Linked DNA regions of Homo sapiens: all the other regions are linked to region 1. The links come from fine-mapping of genetic effects on gene expression. A gene starts in region 1. Each other region holds a variant in brackets. All regions are shown on one strand. Distances are from middle to middle. Region 1 holds the start of FBXO32 (F-box protein 32). Region 2 overlaps FBXO32 (F-box protein 32). Region 3 overlaps ANXA13 (annexin A13).

The links. PIP is the estimated chance that this variant, and not a neighbour inherited with it, causes the effect.
Region 2: its variant is fine-mapped to the expression of FBXO32 in whole blood (TOPMed, PIP above 0.99).
Region 3: its variant is fine-mapped to the expression of FBXO32 in fibroblasts (GTEx, PIP above 0.99).

What each region holds. Positions count from the first base shown.
Region 1 is chr8:123,538,394-123,544,252 of GRCh38, forward strand. It overlaps FBXO32 (F-box protein 32), which reads right to left and starts at 2,813. Exons shown (of 9, transcript NM_058229.4): 1 at 2,506-2,813. The coding sequence starts at 2,621. RefSeq lists silencers at 2,710-2,799, 2,850-2,959, 3,050-3,339.
Region 2 is chr8:123,517,970-123,522,969 of GRCh38, forward strand. The region is part of intron 4 of FBXO32 (F-box protein 32); the gene reads right to left. Among named protein-coding and RNA genes, the nearest start is that of FBXO32, 21 kb to the right of the region's middle. The variant G/A (reference allele first, on the strand shown) is at 2,459.
Region 3 is chr8:123,678,126-123,683,984 of GRCh38, forward strand. It overlaps ANXA13 (annexin A13), which reads right to left. Exons shown (of 11, transcript NM_004306.4): 11 at 2,669-3,234. The coding sequence ends at 3,115. Among named protein-coding and RNA genes, the nearest start is that of KLHL38, 27 kb to the left of the region's middle. The variant C/T (reference allele first, on the strand shown) is at 3,079.

The sequences.
Region 1 (5,859 bases):
GTTCTCTGTTTCACGGTCCCTCCCCGCTTAAGGGCCTGCCTTTTGTTTTCTCATAACAGGAGAGGCATTCAGCTTCACCTGTGCAGGCAGGCACGCAGTCCAAACCTGACATCACGGGGAAACATCACCAAGACCAAAAACAGTGAGGATATTTGAGATGACAAACCCAGACCACAGAAGGCCAACTGCTTTTAAGAAGTTGCAGGCTTCTCATGCTAAGCAGGGAAGGGATTGTTTACAGTTGCTGGAAAAAAAAATACCCTGCAAACAAACAGCCAGCTGCTTTGCTAGGAGGCTACCAAATGATTCCTAAACGCTGACTCAAAGGACCACAGGTGGTCAGTATATCAATGACTATTTGCGGTAATGATGATGGATGTGACAGCTCCAGCTCAGGTGTGAAATGGGAAGAAAAAGAGGCTCATGAACAGGACACGGGAGGGGGGCTGTGCAGGAAACCACCTGATTCCAGCCCAGTCTAAACTTTTGTGGTAAGTTAAGACCATCTTCAGGTCTTCCATACTGTGAAGACAGAGATACCACTATTTCTAAAGGAGAGTGACACCAGTTTCTCTCCTGATGCCGGTATAGGGTATTTTAAAACAAATTTTAAATTTTTATTTATTTTTAGAGACAGGGTCTCGCTCTGTGGCCCAGGCTGGAGCGCAGTGGCACAGTCATGACTCGCTGCAGCCTTGAACTTCTGAGCACAAGCCATCCTCCCACCTCAGCCTCCCGAGTAGGGTAAGTATTAATACGACCCTACATTTTAAATCTTCTGCTGAACTCAATCATCTGTTCTCCACTGAGGAGCATCCTGCAATTATATTTGGGTGAGCAGCTCTAACATGACTCTTCAGACCCTTTCGGCACTTTTCTAGAAAGAACCTGAACTTGTATACAGAAATAAAGTACCAACATATTAGATCATTGTCCTTAGGAACAAGGAGGAAGGAAGGAAGGTTCCCATTTTGTTGAGGGAGAATAATTTAGGCATAATTGGTAACTCCAGTCGATAAAAGACATAGTCTGTCAATAGCAGTTGGTCTTACTTTCCCGTAAATAAATTACTTGATTTTACGTAAATAAGATTTCCTTATGGTGGTCCCTAAACTCCCCTGGGACAGCCTCCAAGTAACTCCAACGTAAATGGTTATATGCTGGTGGTTAATACGCTCAAGTCTCTCCGGACAGACCCCCAGAATTAAATAATGTCTTTCTTTACATTGTGAGACAATGGGAATTTGATGCATTACAAATCACAAACAAATGGGAGGCACGGGAGTTCAAGTTGCCAAAATAACCACATTTTCTTGATAGTTTTCTCAAAATTTATTGCCAATGCTTCATCCAAGCAACGACTGGTAAATCTCAGTAAGCGGGAACCTGGCCCAGAAACAGAATTCTCCATTGAAGTCAATTTAAGGGTGCAGGGGCCCATGGTTTTAACCAAAGGTGGCAGGAAAAGGCTCCCAAGGGTGACTCTGGCTGCACCAGTCCATTCTGGAATCACTTTCATCGCCCCCGCTCACCGGGCTAAATGCTGAGAGTCTCTGAAAGTCAACTGTCGAGGTCAGGGGCTGAGAAATTCCAGGCTACCTTGCGTACTAGCCGGCGCTGGCATCGTTAGCCAAGCTGAGCAGGGAGCGCAGCGGACCTCAGGTTTCCCGCCAGACCACAGAGCTCAGGTGAGGCCTCGAATCCAGAGGCTCACCGGGGCCAGGCAGGCTTTTCGCAGCTGACAGGCACCCCTGGAAACGGAGTGCACTCTATACAAAGCAGACCGACCGAGAGGGCCACCGAGGAAACAGGTGCAAGAGCCCTGTCCTCCCAGAAGCAGAGCTCTTGTGGGATTCATCCCCTGCCCCCTTCCCTCCTTTGCACCTCTGCAGCCCCAAGCCTCCACCGCTCGCAAGTCCGCCCAGTAAGCGGCTGCCCCAGGGACCATCTGGCCGTCCCTTCCTGGTTACTCATCCTCCCGGCCACTTCGTGGTTGCCCGTGCCTGGGCAGGGCCTGGAAGCGCTCCAGGCGGGACCTTCGTCGGATCCCGTCACCTGTCGCGTCCACAGCGCTTGGGCGCTGGGAGCCGGGCCACCCCGCGGTGAAGGGGCTCAGCCCACCCGCCCGCGCCCCCACATGGGCAAAGTGCGCGACTCCGGTGTCCTTAAAGCAGGGACCACTAAAGCTGTGTGATTAAGTTTGAGCGAACGTTTGGGGACACGATCCGCGAATGTCATCAGACTCTCAGAGGGACCAGGTGTTCTGTAAGGAGTCGTGTCCACTTGGAGACACTGACCTTGAACAATAAGAGAAACCGAATTCCCTGTCTCCGGTGGTCCGAAGACCTCTGCAGAAATCGGGCCCCGTAGTCCCACCCTCCGGGTCAGGGTCTCCCTCCTCAGCCCGCTCCAGCCCTGCCTGCCCCTCATTCGCCGTCCCTGCGCCCCCCAGACCAGCCCGGGTCAGTTTCGCGGGGGCTGGAAGTTGGTAGCGGGTCCCCTCACCTGCTGAGGTCGCTCACGAAACTGCCGCTCTTCTCATCCAGGAAGCGCTTCCAGCCGTCGGCCGTCTTCACCCAGTTCTGCCCGGGGGACCGCCAGTCCTGCCCGAGGAATGGCATGGCACCGCGAGCGGACTAGACGGATGGGGAGACGGGGCCGGCCTGGTGGGCTCGGGGACGTGCCACCCGGGGCGGATGCTCGGGGTGCAGGGGCCCGCGACGGGGGCGGCGGGGCGGCGGGAACGGCGCGGGGCACCCTGCGGGGTGGCGGGCGCGGAGAGGATCTCAAGCGTTGCAGGCTCCGGGAGTGCTGCGCGGCAGTAGCTGCCGCAGTATTTATCCCCGCAGCCGGCCGCAGCTCTTTGTTGCCGGAAGAGCCGCCCGCTCTTAGCCCGGCCCCCCGGCCCGGAGGCCACGTGGCTTTGTTTATGGGCTCGGCTTGTTTTCCGAGGCGCCTGCGGCTCACGCTCCCCTCCCGGTTGCACAACCGCGCCGGTGGAAACTTGAAGCGGTGCTGCCGGGCCGGGTACCCCGCCGCCCCTGGCACCTCCGCGCGCCCTCCCCGCCCCCAGGACACCGTTGTCCCAGAGCGAGGCCCGGCGCTTGGAAAGATGCGCCCCGGTCTCCTGCAGCTCCCGGGCTGACGGGGTGCAGGGAGGGGGCCGGAGGGGCGTCTGGGTCCCTGCGGGGTGGGCGTGAGGAGCAGGGCCAGCCCCCCTCCTGCCCCCGAGCTATCAGGATCGACCTCCGCAGCCAGATCAGCCTCCCGGGCCGTCCGCAGAGCTGGGGCCGGCACCGCGCCCGCCGGGCGGGGAGTAGGGGGCGCAGCCTCCTGACCTCGCTCACTGCCCCAACCCCGCCCTAGCGCGCGGGGGTTGGAGCGGGGAGGAGGGACAGCCTCCCAGCCCTCCGGGCCCCTTAGCTGTCACTAACCAGTCCTCCTTCAGACCTGCCCCTGGGGCAGCAAAGGAGGGGAAGGAGAGGAAGCCCTGGGAGGTATCTGGCTCCCGCAGGTTGGGAGTGGAGAAAAAGAACAGCGCCCCTATCCTACCCGAACCCTCTAAGAGACGGGTTAAATGATGTACCCAGGGCCAATGCTACAGTACAATCTGAAACTACCCTGTTTGCTTTTACTTTTTGCTGTTGTTACAACAATCTACCCCTGTCTGCAGTGGGAACTCCATGAGAGCTGGTCTGTCTTGTTCCGGAGGCATTTCAGCCCCTGCACCCTGCCAGGCCCAGTGCAGGCCTTCAACAACTATTTGTGTGAATAAGTGAATGGATACGGGAGGCTGCTGGCATGAGGGTGGCTTCTTGCCCTTCATCACCTCTAGTTATGATGCTTTACAGCCTGGTCTATTTGGCAATTAGTTTGCACAGGACAGCAGCAGCAGAGTAAAAATCCCATACTCAAGCATTAGCTTCAAACTTCATTCTTCCATTCTTCTTTCTCTGCAGCCATCAATATCATCTAGTCCACTGACTCGGTGTAATCTTTAAGGCTCAGGCAAAGAAATTGTGTGTGCCCTATGAGGCTACATGTTGGACTGGGAAGACGTTTTTAATAAAGTTTGTTTTCAAGAAGCCAGAGCTTTCTGATTTAGATTTCCCACCGTAAATAATTTATTAGTGTAGTAATAGTAAAAAAAAAGCTTGTAAAAACATTGAAGAAGTCCCAAACAAATGTTAAACACTGTGATGGTGCTAACAAATGAGGCAGTGTTGGGTCTGGTCTCTGTTGGAGGGAATTGGTATCTGCATAATTAAGGGATGTGATTATTATTATTATTATTTTTGAGACAGGGTCTCATTGTGTCACTCAGGCTAGAGTGAGTGATCATGGCTCACTGTAGCCTCAGCCTCCCCAGCTCAAGCCATCCTCCCACCTCGGCCCCAGTCTCCAGTAGCTGAGACTACAGGCACTCACCACTGCACCAGGCTAATTTTTTATATTTTTTGTAGAGATAGGGTTTTGCTATCTTGCCCAGGCTAGTCTTAAACTCCTGGGCTCAAGTGATCCTCCTTCCTTGGCCTCCCAAAGTGTTGGGATTACAGGCGTGAGCCACCATGCCCGCCTGGGATGTGATTATGAACAATGTGGGTTAGTTATGTATTAGTAAGCTGGCTACATACCTGTAGAGACCACAGAGGGCCAGAAGGTAGAAGTTTTGAATTCTAATTCTGCTGGAGCAGCATACTACCTGTCCTCCCTTGGATGAATGACTTAAACTCTTAGGGCCCCATTTACTTAACTGTCAAGAAAAAATGGAGCCAATAATGCCTACCTTTCAGGATGGTTTAAAAGCTGTGGTAGATTGAATTATTAGTACCCATTCTTCCCTCCTTTCCAGTAGCGTCATGTGCCCACACTTTTTGGTGATGTGTATTTTTCTAATTCTTGACAATGGGCTTGGCCATATGACTGGCTTTAGCCAAGGGGATGCTGATGGATGTGATGTGAGCAGAGGATCTGATGTATGTACTTGCCTGGTTGGTCTTGATGTTTTGTGTGTTCACCTGCTCCATGAAAAGAGCATACCCTGTGTAGCCACTGCTCCTGGAGTGGTTTGAGTGACATCCGTGTGTCCCAGGATGTGACACATGGAGCAGACACTCCCGTTGACCTCACAGATGTGTTAGCAAGAAATAAATGTGTCTTGTTGATGCCACTGAGATTTTTGTGATTTACTGTTACACAGCATTATTGTGTCGATAGCTGACTACTATAAAGGGTTGAGTGGCTCAAAGTTGGTGAAAGTTTCTTTAACTTCTAAAATTCAAGCACAAATAGGAAATTACAATTATTTTTGTCCTTGTCTTTTTGTCTAATAACTAATCTTAGGAAGCCTCAGTGTTTGTCTCTAGTCCTTCCGCTTTCTGTTCCTTAAAACAAACAAACAGAATTGTTGCTATCATATCTTAATGCAGGCTTCTTCTGAAGTGTGATTGACTATTTCAGATTTCTCTTACCATAAAAAAATCTAATTTGAGACTTCTTTTTTTTTTTTGAAACAGAGTCTTGCTCTATCACCCAGGCTAGAGTGTACCGGTGCAATCATGGCTCACTGCAGCCTTGAACTCTTGAGCTCAAGTGATTCTCCTGCCTCAGCCTCCTGAGCAGCTAAGACAACAGGCGTGCACCACCATGCCTGGTTGATTAAAACATTTTTTTTTTGGAGAGATGGGGTCTTGCTATGTTGCTCGGGCTGGTCTCAAACTCTGGCCTCAAGTGATCCTCCCGCCTTGGCCTCCCAAACTACTAGGAGTACAGGCATGAGCCACCATGCTCAGCTGACACTTATTTAAACATGGTTTCTACTGGGAAGTTTTGTAATGCTGGACCCCTCAAGATAAAGAA
Region 2 (5,000 bases), 21 kb before region 1:
CCACGTGGTCTCTGTAGCAACTACTCCACCCTGAAGCTATAGCACCGAAATGGCTATAGACAATGTGTAAATGAGTGGGCATGGGTGTATTCCAATAAAACTTTATTTACAAAAGCAGGTGGAGGGCCAGATTTGGCACCTGGGCTATGTCACAGTTTCTGGTATATATCATAAGAGTTTAAGAGTGAGGGCTCCAGAGGCAAACTGTCTGCCTCAGTTTTCCCATCTTCAAAATATGCACAGTAATAGTACCTACTTCAAAGTTGCTGTGAAGATTAAATGTATTCACATAGCACTCATAACTGTGCCTGCTACAAAGAATATACTCGATAAATTATTATTGTTAGCTTTTACCATAATACAGAGCATTACCAAGTAAAATTATTGCCAATCAGGAAATAGTGAGTTAACAGGGCAAAGTGCAACCCATTTAAAGACCTTCAGAATTGCTGTATTTCAATTGTAGCTGTTGTCAAACAAATAAATAAATGCTTTCACACTGTAATATTCCTTTCTGTCATTTTACTATGTTGGTGATACATTTAATAGCACCCTATCTGTTGATAAAAGTTAATGCTGATACATTTTATGACTTGCATAGTTTTTCTACCATGGAGTCTTATTTTGCTAACAATAACAATAACAATGGGGTGCTTACTATGTGTCAGCAACTGCAGCTAAGCACTATACATTTGTAATCTTGTTTATCTTTTACAGCAACCCAGTGAGATAGCTTCTCCATTTAACCATTGAGGATATTGAGGCTCAGAGAAGTACTCACCTAAAGCCATACCAGCAGTAGCAAATGCTGGAGCCAGGACTTGAGCCCAGATATGTCTAACAGAGAACACATTTTCTTTTTTTTTTGTTGAGACAAAGTCTCACTCTGTCACCTAGGCTGGAGTGCAGTGGCACAGTCATGGCTCACTGTAGCCTTTACCTCCGAGGCTCAAGCTATCTTCCCACCTCAGCCTCCCAAGTAGCTGGGACCACAGGGGCACAGCACTATGCCTGGCTAATTTTTTTTATTTCTATTTGTAGAGACAGGGTCTTCCTAGTTACCCAGGCTGGCCTCGAACTTGTGGGATCAAGCGATCCTCGTGTTTCAGCCTCGCAAAGTGCTGGGATTACAGGCATGAGCCACTGTGCCTGGCAGAACATATATTCTGACAGTTTCAGGACTTCAGTTTGTCAAGGCCAATCAATTTGCATGGAGGGCCAAATTTTACTCCAAAATGGGAGCAATACCATTTATTGTTATGTTCTGGGGAAACAGAGTCTAGAAAATTTTATATAATATTGGGCTGGGCGTGGCGGCTCACGCCTGTAATCCCAGCACTTGGGGAGACTGAGGCAGGCGGATCACGAGGTGAGGAGATCGAGACCATCCTGGCTAATGGTGAAACCCCATCTCTACTAAAAATACAAAAAATTAGCCGGATGCGGTGGCGGGTGCCTGTAGTCCCAGCTACTCAGGAGGCTGAGGCAGGAGAATGGCGTGAACCCGGGAGGCAGAGCTTGCAGTGAGCTGAGATCACACCACTGCACTCCAGCCTGGGCGACAGAGCAAGACTCCATCTCAAAAAAAAAAAAAAAAAAGAAATTTTATATAATAATATGTTGTGACTGGTAAACAACTTTTAATATTAAGGGCACTGTAATGCTCAGAAAGTGCTACCAGCACATTTAGGATGAGGCAACTGCTTTGGGTAAACCACAGAGTCTACTTTCCACATCAGCATCACTCTATAGGCCCAGAGCTACTACTAGGTAGTGATGTATGGAACTAGTAGTGAAGAGAGCAGAATTTACCGATTTTTAAATTTTTTAATTTTTGAGACAGAGTCTTGCTCTGTTGCCCAGGCTGGAGTGTAATGGCGTGATTTCGGCTCATTGCAACCTCCACCTCCCAGGTTGAAATGATTCTCCTGCCTCAGCCTTCTGAGTAGCTGGGATTACAGGCACCCGCCACCACACCTGGATAATTTTTGTATTTTTAGTAGAGATCGAGTTTCACCATGTTGGCCAGGTTGGTCCTGAGCTCCTGACCTCAGGTGATCTGCCTGCTTTGGCCTCCCAAAGTGTTGGGATTACAGGCGTAAGCCATCGCGCACAGCCCAAATTTATCGATTTTATTTGTGTTAAGAGAGCTGCGTGCCTAGGAAAGTAGGTTTGTATCTAGCAATCTGTGTACCAGGATGACTTAGCCAATTGGATTCTTTGCCCCTAGCCACAAGAGAAAAAAAGAACAGAGGAAAATGTCTTGTTTGGAAGTGGCTGCTTGTTTTTGACTGGGCAAATTTTAGCCCAGGTGCTAGTAATTTGTGGCTATGTTTAAAGAGAGGCAGGGGGAGGGAAGGGGAAGGAGGAGGAGGCTTCTCGGCTCCTCTGGAATTCCGTGGTGTCATTATCGTGTGGGCACTCTGGGCATCCGGCATGATCTGCAGTGACGAGCCGT[G/A]CAGTACCAGGAATGGCTCTGAGCTACTGGAGGGAGGGATGGTGGTCACCGCATGCTGAAACCACATCCTGCCCTTCAGCTTTGGCTCATGCTAGTTCTGGAGGCAACGAATAGGAGACAAATCTAGTTGCAAGCAATATCGTATAGCAAATCTCAGAGCGGATATCAACCAAAGTTTGAAGTGGTGTGTGCAAGACGAATGGGCAGAAGAGAGATTTCCCTCTTATCTCACTGCTCTCGTATCAAGAGCAGGCTTCTTACGTCTTCTTCCCTACAGTTTATTTTAGCATAGCATTCATAGTTTTAAAAATCCATCAGTTCACGTTACTTCTTTGCTTAAAATCCTCAAATGGCTTCTCCTTGCGCTTAGGAAAAAACTCAAGCTCCTTACCATGACTGGCAAGGTTCTCCCTGATCTGGTTTCTACCCCTTTTCCAGCCTAGTTTTGCACAAATTCACTCTGCTCCGGCTACACAGGTTATTCGTCTCTCGAATAGGCCAAGCTTATTCTCACCTCTGGGCCTTTGCCTCTGCCACATCTTTACATGCTCGGCTCCATCCCATCCCTCAGGTCTCAGTTCAAACGTGGCCTGCCCCGGGCTCAGAGGGCCCTTCCCTGGCCATCTTATGCAAAAACCTCCCTGTTGCCATCTTCACCTTACTATGGTTTCATTGTTCTTCATTGTTGCATTTATGCATATCTGAATTGGTCTTGTTCACTTACTTGCTGATAGGCTAATTAGGATGGAACCCTCAAGACAGCAAGTGTTGTCCTGTTTCCCACTCTACCCCCAGCTTGGCACATGGTAAGCACTCAACAAATAGTGTTTTTTAAAACATACATTTGTCTTTTTGAATCAAAGAGTGTTGTAGCTGGAAGGGACTCAGGAAACAGTTTACCCGAATTTCCTCCTGCTATAGATGAGGTGGCTCATGATGGCCAAATGACACATCAAGGTCAATGGTGGACCATCTGGCTGGTCAGGCTGATATCTATATGGAGACTAGTTCCAGACTGATGCCCCAGGAGTGGCATGGGCCTAGGAGTAAATTATTTATAATGCAAACATATCTCAAACACTTTCCAGAAGGGCAAGCAGCCTGAGATCTGGAGGGACAGTAAACACTTGGGCTTTCAGAAGCATCAACAAAAATAGCAGCTTCCTCTACCTGTTAGTTTAAAAGGACAAAACCACAAGGCTGCTGCCTAAGCATGCTCTATCATTCTCATACAGAATTGTTAAGAATGAGAACACAATTTATCCCCAAATTCCTTATCTCGTATAACAGTGGGGTGTTACAGTATGAAGTATGTGTCTGACTGGAAAATCTGCCAGAGTTATCAAAGGCAGAAACGAGTCCCAGCCTCAAGCAGCCTTGCCATGCCTCACATGCTCAATACCCAAGTTGGGTGCCCATCTATAGGAAGGTTGCGTCTTCTATAATAAACCTTTAGTTAGACTAGGCAGTGTCTCTCTCTGCTCTGAGTGCTGGGTACTTCCAAGACCCTTATTTACTCAATGAATAACACAGATAAAAAACCTGGAAAGTTTTGTTCTGACTTTGAGCTTGAACACTGACAGGTTGAAAGAGAAAAAAATTTCAGCGACATTAATAATCTGCAGGCATGTCAAGATTGGATAAATATTATTTGCAAGTGAAACAGCTCTCTTTTAACAGAGGGAGTTAAAATAATAAGGAGAGCCAAGTTTACATGCATTAATTGTATTCTCAGCAGAGAGAGACTTGCCTCTTCATCTTTTACCCATCCTGGTTACTTTTTTTTTTTTTTTTTTTTTTGAGATGGAGTCTCACTCTGCTGCCCAGGCTGGAGTGCAGTAGTGTGAGCTGGCTCACTGCAACCTCTGCCTTTTGGGTTCAAATGATTCTCCTGCCTCAGCCTTCTGAGTAGCTGGGACTACAAGTGCCTGCCACCATGTCCGGCTGATTTTTGTATTTTTAAGAGAGACGGTGTTTCACCATGTTGGCTAGGCTGGTCTCAAACTCCTCACCTCAAGTAATCCACCTGCCTCGGCCTCCCAAAGTATTGGGATTACAGGTGTGAGCCCCCACACCTGGCCCTGGTTACTTTTGAGTTGACAATGGCAGTTTATTCCCCATTACATCCATCTAACAGCGATGTCTGGCTTGGCGATCTTCCTTAAACTGAGCTCCCATCTATTCCAGCAACTGTCACCTCTGCCCTATGGTTCTATAGGCTGAATGTCACATCGCCATTGGCCCCTGACCCACAATCATTCCCCTTCACTTTTGTTCCTTCCCATTTCTAGGTTCTGCTTACATTGCTTGTCCCTGCAAAGCCTTCCACTTGCCTTTCCATCTGGCCAAATCCTGGCCGTCCCTCAAGGAAGGAGAATTTCAGGTTCTACCTCTTTCAAGAAGCCATCTCCAAGGCTCCTAGACTGTACTAATTCAACTTGCCATTTGAATAGTTATACTTTGTCCCCCAGAGTAGCCCAGAAGTACCTGACAAGCAGGGGCTAGGTCTGACACGATTCTCAAGTGGCTATGGCAACACTAG
Region 3 (5,859 bases), 140 kb after region 1:
CTCATGGACCATGAGCTAGTCTGGCGAAGAGCACGGGCATTAGAGGCAGAAGGACTTGGGTTGAATTCTGGCCCTGGTACTTTATGTGGGTGATCTTGAGTAAATGACCTGGCTTCTCCATCTTATCAGCCTCAGTTTCTCCACCTGTAAAATATCTTCTTGCTTGTCTCTGTGTGAATTATGGCCATCAACAATCTCAAATTGTGTCTGTTTTTAATAGATCTCTTTTCAGTCCATTGATTTGTTTTTCTGTCCTTACCATGAGCTCAGATCCCAAAAACTGGTTGTTTTGTTTCTGGTTATAAAAGCAAAGACCAGCTTTGGCAACAAATAGGTAAATACAAATACGTTTTGTCACTGAGCTTGGTTCTAGAAAATAATTTTTTATGTATTAAAGTTTATAATGATGGCAATGACTATTAAGTAGATAAACCAGGATGTGGAAGACACTGATGTTAACATAACTTCTTAATATGTCCATCACTGTTTTGTAGCAACTAAAAAGACAATTATGGCATCTATCCTTAACTGATTGGGCTGTTTGTTATATGTTGATCACACCCCAAATGGTGTGAATGAGATTGTGCTACTTAGTAGTGTCAGGCACAAATAATCAGCCAATGAAGGATAACTATGATTATTGGACCAAGGTGTTCAGGTTCTGTTGACAGATCCCTCTATGTCTAGCAGCCACTAAAGTGATTTCCCAAAGCCCAGATGTGATCATGTTCTTCGCTTAAACATCTCCAATGACTGCTGTTGCCCAGAGGACCAAACTCATGCTTGGCAGGCAGAACCATGGCTGATGTGGTTCAAACCTATTTTCACAGCTGCTTTGCCTGCCTGCCAGGGCCATTCCTTTCTTTCCACACATCTGTGCCCCAGGAGAATGGATTTCACCTCTCCCTGAACACACCCTGCCCACTCAGGCTTCTCCAGCCTCTGCTTGTGCCCTTCTTCTTTTATTTTTCTGGAGAGCTTCTATGCATTCTTTAAAACCCAGCACAAATGCATCTCTGGGAAGTGTTCCCCAGTTCCCCATGCAGAGCTGTGTGTTCTCTCTTCTTACTCATAGGTAGAGCCCTTTACCTGCTTGATATGGTTTGGCTCTGTGTCCCCATCCAAATCTCATCTTGAATTGTAATCCCCATGTGTCGAGGGAGGGACCTGCTGGGAGGTGATTAGATCATGGGGGGAGTTTCCCCCATGCTGTTCTTATGATAGTGAGTGAGTTCTCACAAGATCTGATGGTTTAAAAGTGTGGCACTTCCCCTCCCCCATCTCTCCTGCCACCATGTAACACGTGCTTTGCTTCCCCTTTACCTTTTGCCATGATTGTAAGTTTCCTGAGACCTCCCCAGCCAGGTGGAAATGTGAGTCAATTAAACCCGTTTTCTTTATAAATTACCCAGTCTCAGGTAGTTCTTTACTGCAGTGTGAAAATGAACAGTGTGAAAATGAACAAATATACTGCTCTTATTAATGCACTTACAGCATTCTATTGAATAAAAGAGACATTATTGACCTGGGAATGAACTGCCCCAAGGGGAGTCAGTGTTCTACTTGTCTTTGTATCCTCAGAGCACACCACAGTGATTGGCAGATAGTAGGGAACTAAGCAGATGAATGAATACAGACCCATTCCCATGTACTTCAACTGATTTTTCCAATTAAGGCAGTTAGTAGCATGATTCCTGGTGTCAGCCAGCCCTGGATTGAAATGCTAGTTGACATGGTTTGGCTCTATGTCACCACCCAAATCTCATCACAAATTGTAATCCTCATGTGTCAATTGTAATCCCCAGGAAAGACCTGGTGGGAGTGATTAGATCATGGGGTCTGTGTCCCCCATGCTGTTCTCGTCACAGTGAGGGAGTTCTCATGAGATCTGATGGTTTTATAAGGGGCTCTTTCCGCTTCGCTCACCACTCTTTCTTTCCTGCTGCCACATAAGACGTGCCTCCTCCCCTTCCACCATGATTGTAAGTTTCCTGAGGCCTCCCCAGCCCTGCGGAACTGTGAGTCACTTAAACCTCTTTTCTTTATAAATTACCCAGTCTTGGTAATTTTTTACCGGTAATTATAGCAGTGTGAAAACAGCACTTGTAAATGAATTTAGATAGGTTACTTAATGTGTCAGTTTCCTCAACTGATAATTGGGAGTAATATTAACCACATAGAGCTGTGGGGAGGATTAAGAATGAAATTGGACTACTCAGTGTCAGGCACAAATAATCAGCCAATGAATGACAACTATGATTATTGGGCCAAAGTGTCCAGGTTCTCTTGACAGATCCCTCTATGTCTAGCAACACGTGGCTATGAGACTAAAGTTTTGGAACACAGAATCTATTGGTGTGGAACCAATTCACTTCAGAGGTAGACCATTGATCTTGATCTTGTTGGCACTTTGCTCAGCTTAATTGTATTTGAAGATCAGAGGGAAGACTCAAGTGGGTCAAATGTCTAGAGAAGAAAACCCAGTTAAACCAGGTAGCAGATTAGGGAATTTTACCCTTAGTTACAGTTTACAAAAGCAAGTGAATTGTTTCCTTATGACTAGCCTTGATTAGTGACCACTAAAAAATGTAGGTTTGAATTTCACAAGTCATACATTTCCCAGAGAAGAGCCCAAACTTATCAAGACAATCTTTGGAAAAGCAGCTGATAGAGGCATAATCCACAACTTTAATTAACAATGAGGCTTTCAAATTGAACACACAGAAGGAAAATTAATAAATTGTTTAATTTTGTCTTTCCTGTACCTTACTTGTGTGATGCATATCCTTCTAAATGTGCCATTACAAATGCATAGTTTTTTCATCAACTGCTGATTTCATTAGTGTTTAGAAAACATCCAGTTACCATGCTAAAAGAAAGTGAAGAGGCAGCCTAGATGCTTGCTAAGCCAGAGTTCAAGGTGCCCTGCCCACGCATCTTAACGTTACTGCCCTTAACTTACACAGCTTGGCCTGGCTGCGCCACTTAAGCTGCCAAGAAAGTAATCCGGGACTCTTAAGGGTTTTCGTGCGGGAGTCTCATTTGCAAGTTTGATTTGGAATGTGCTCTTGACAAAGG[C/T]GGTTCCACCCTGTGTTCCTATTGCCCTGGCTTGGCTCAGTGCAAGAGGGCTACTAGCAGTTTCCGGAAGTCCCCGGAGGTATCTGAGCGAACCATGTCAGAGAGAGACTTCTGATACTTCTCTTGGAACTTTGCTTTGATCCCCTGAAGGTCCACCTGTAGAAAAAATAACAGCAATGGAGATAAGAACGTTTATGGTGTGTTCACAAACAGTGGGCACTGTTCTACACATGTTATACTCATTTGCTCATTCATGCCTTAAAACAGCCCTTGAGATAGGGCTTTATTTCCTATCATTATTTCCTTTATCACGTTATTTCAATTTTGTGATCAGGAAAGGGAAGGCAGAGGTCAATTCCCCAAAGGTTGCAGAGGTGTCCACGTGTGTGTGTGTTCCACTAAAACTCTTGAATTTCTTTTTTTTTTTTTTTTTTTTTGAGACAGAGCTTTGCTCTTGTTGCCGAGGCTGGAGTGCAATGGTGCAGTCTCGGCTCACTGCAATCTCCGCCTCCTGGGTTCAAGCAATTGTCCTGCCTCAGCCCCCCAAGTAGCTGGGATTACAGTCAACCACCATGCCTGGCTAATTTTTTTCTGTATTTTTAGTAGAGACGGGGGTTTCATCATGTTGGCCAGACTGGTCTCGAACTCGTGACCTCAGGTGATCCACCCACCTCAGCTCCCGAAGTGCTGGGATTACAGGCGTGAGCCACCGTGCCTGGCCCTAAAACTCTTGAATTTCATACAGTTTTTACATGTTACAAAGTATTATCTTTCTTTTGAGTTTTAACAGTTATTTGAAAATGAATTGCCCTAAGCTAGCAGGACTGTACACAACCTGGCAGTGAGCCTGAATTGGCCTGCAGGCTGTAGTTGGTTGACCCCTGGTATAAAACTAAGAAAATTGTCAACACAGAGATGTGGAATTAAGCAATTAAGCAGTTTTTCCCTCATACCATGATTAGCAAGGATATTAGTACCAGTCAACACAACTCAAATCACTAGCAACTTGTAGGATTTATTTTGAATCTAATTTATTGGAAGCTTGAAAAACCCAGGTGCTAGAAGTGATGATAGGACTCAGGAGAAAAATAAATCCAAAGATTGCTCTGCCAGAAGATTCTTACAGCCTAGCAAAGGAGACGATACTTGTACCAGAAAAGATGTAATTCCAGGTAGAACATAATGGATCTCATAAAAGAAGCAGAGAACTCTTTTTAACCAGGAGTCTTTCTTTTCTTTTCTTTTTTGGCTTAGACCCTACCTTGTACTCCAGACCCAAAAAGTGTGGCTCAGGGATCTGATTCTTTCTTCTCTTGCCCCAGTGAGAGGGCTGAGCTGAGACAGTGAGAGAAATGATCAGGATGGGAGTATGTGGGGGAGTGAGGGAGGGTTTGCAGTGGATGTGGAGCAGGTGGCAGACACTACAGGAGACAGGTGGTGTCTGTCTCTCCCCCAGCCTGTGTGTCCCCCTGCTCCGCTGCTTGGCTCCTTGCCCCGTGCTGGGACACGGGCAGGAAGGTGGAGGGTGGGTAGGGATGGGGTGCACAGGGCTCTGTTCTGTGGCTTTGGGAGATTAGGAAATCTGGCCAAACTACTATATCTAGCCAGGCCTGAAGCCTTCTGAGGTAACTGCCCACATGTTGAGATGGCCCAGGACGTGTGGTTGATTCTGAGATGGGACAGAGCTTCTTGGAATAAAACACTCCGTGGGCCATGTCGGAGTGATCACGGAACCCTCACAAGCCCTTCGGATGGATCCAGTCTCTCTGGGGGTCATTTGGAATCCTGGGTCTTCATTGTGTTCAACCTGTCCCTTTTGAGTCCCTCAAGATCTCTCATCTCTCAGTGACTTTGGCTGGAGGTCGAGTTGCTAACAGACAGAGGGACGGACAAGGCAGAAGACCTGGAGAGAAAGGAGGGAGAGGGATTTGGAGCCATGGAGGAGAGAGGCAGAGGCATGGCAGGAGCAGAGCAGAGAGACTGGCAAAGGGAAAGAGGGGAGAGAGAGAGACATGGCCTTCAATAGAAAAAGATGAGTTGTGGAGGAGGAGAAAGGAGGGGAGGAGAAATTCCAGGAATAGAAATAAAAAAGCAAGAACCATCTTGTTGCAAAGTTATATTTAAAAACAGTGTCAGATGTTAAGCATTATTTGTTAAGAAGCCATGGATCAGAATTTGGGTTGGTGTCCCTCCCCCTTCACCTCCCCCTTCATTTAACCACTTTTTTTTTTTTTTTTTGAGGGAAGATGTCTGTGGTTTTCAAGTGCTTAGTTCCACTTCATTCCCCAAGGCTTCTCCTGCTGCCGATGAAATGCCACTTCCCCTTTATTTTGTACCACCTTCTGTCTGTGGCCCCATATCCCGAACTGTTAGCTGTGACCTTTTTTTTTTTTTTTTTTTTGAGACCGAGTCTCGCTCTGTTACTCAGACTGGAGTGTAGTGGCACCATCTTGGCTCACTGCAACCTCCACCTTCTGGGTTCAAGCAATTCTCATGCCTCAGCCTCCTGAGTAGCTGGGACTACAAGTGTGTGCCACCATGCCCAGCTAATTTTTGTATTTTTAGTAGTGACGGGGTTTCACCATGTTGGCCAGGCCGGTCTCGAACTCCTGACCTCAGGCGATCCACCCACCTCGGCCTCCCAAAGTGCTGGGATTACAGGCATGAGCCATTGCACCCGACCAGCTGTGATCTTGACGGCTGCTCCCAAGCCGTTGGCTCTTCCTCTCCCTTTTCTTTCTTATACATACACATTCTCCGAGAGCAAGCACAAATTGGTTT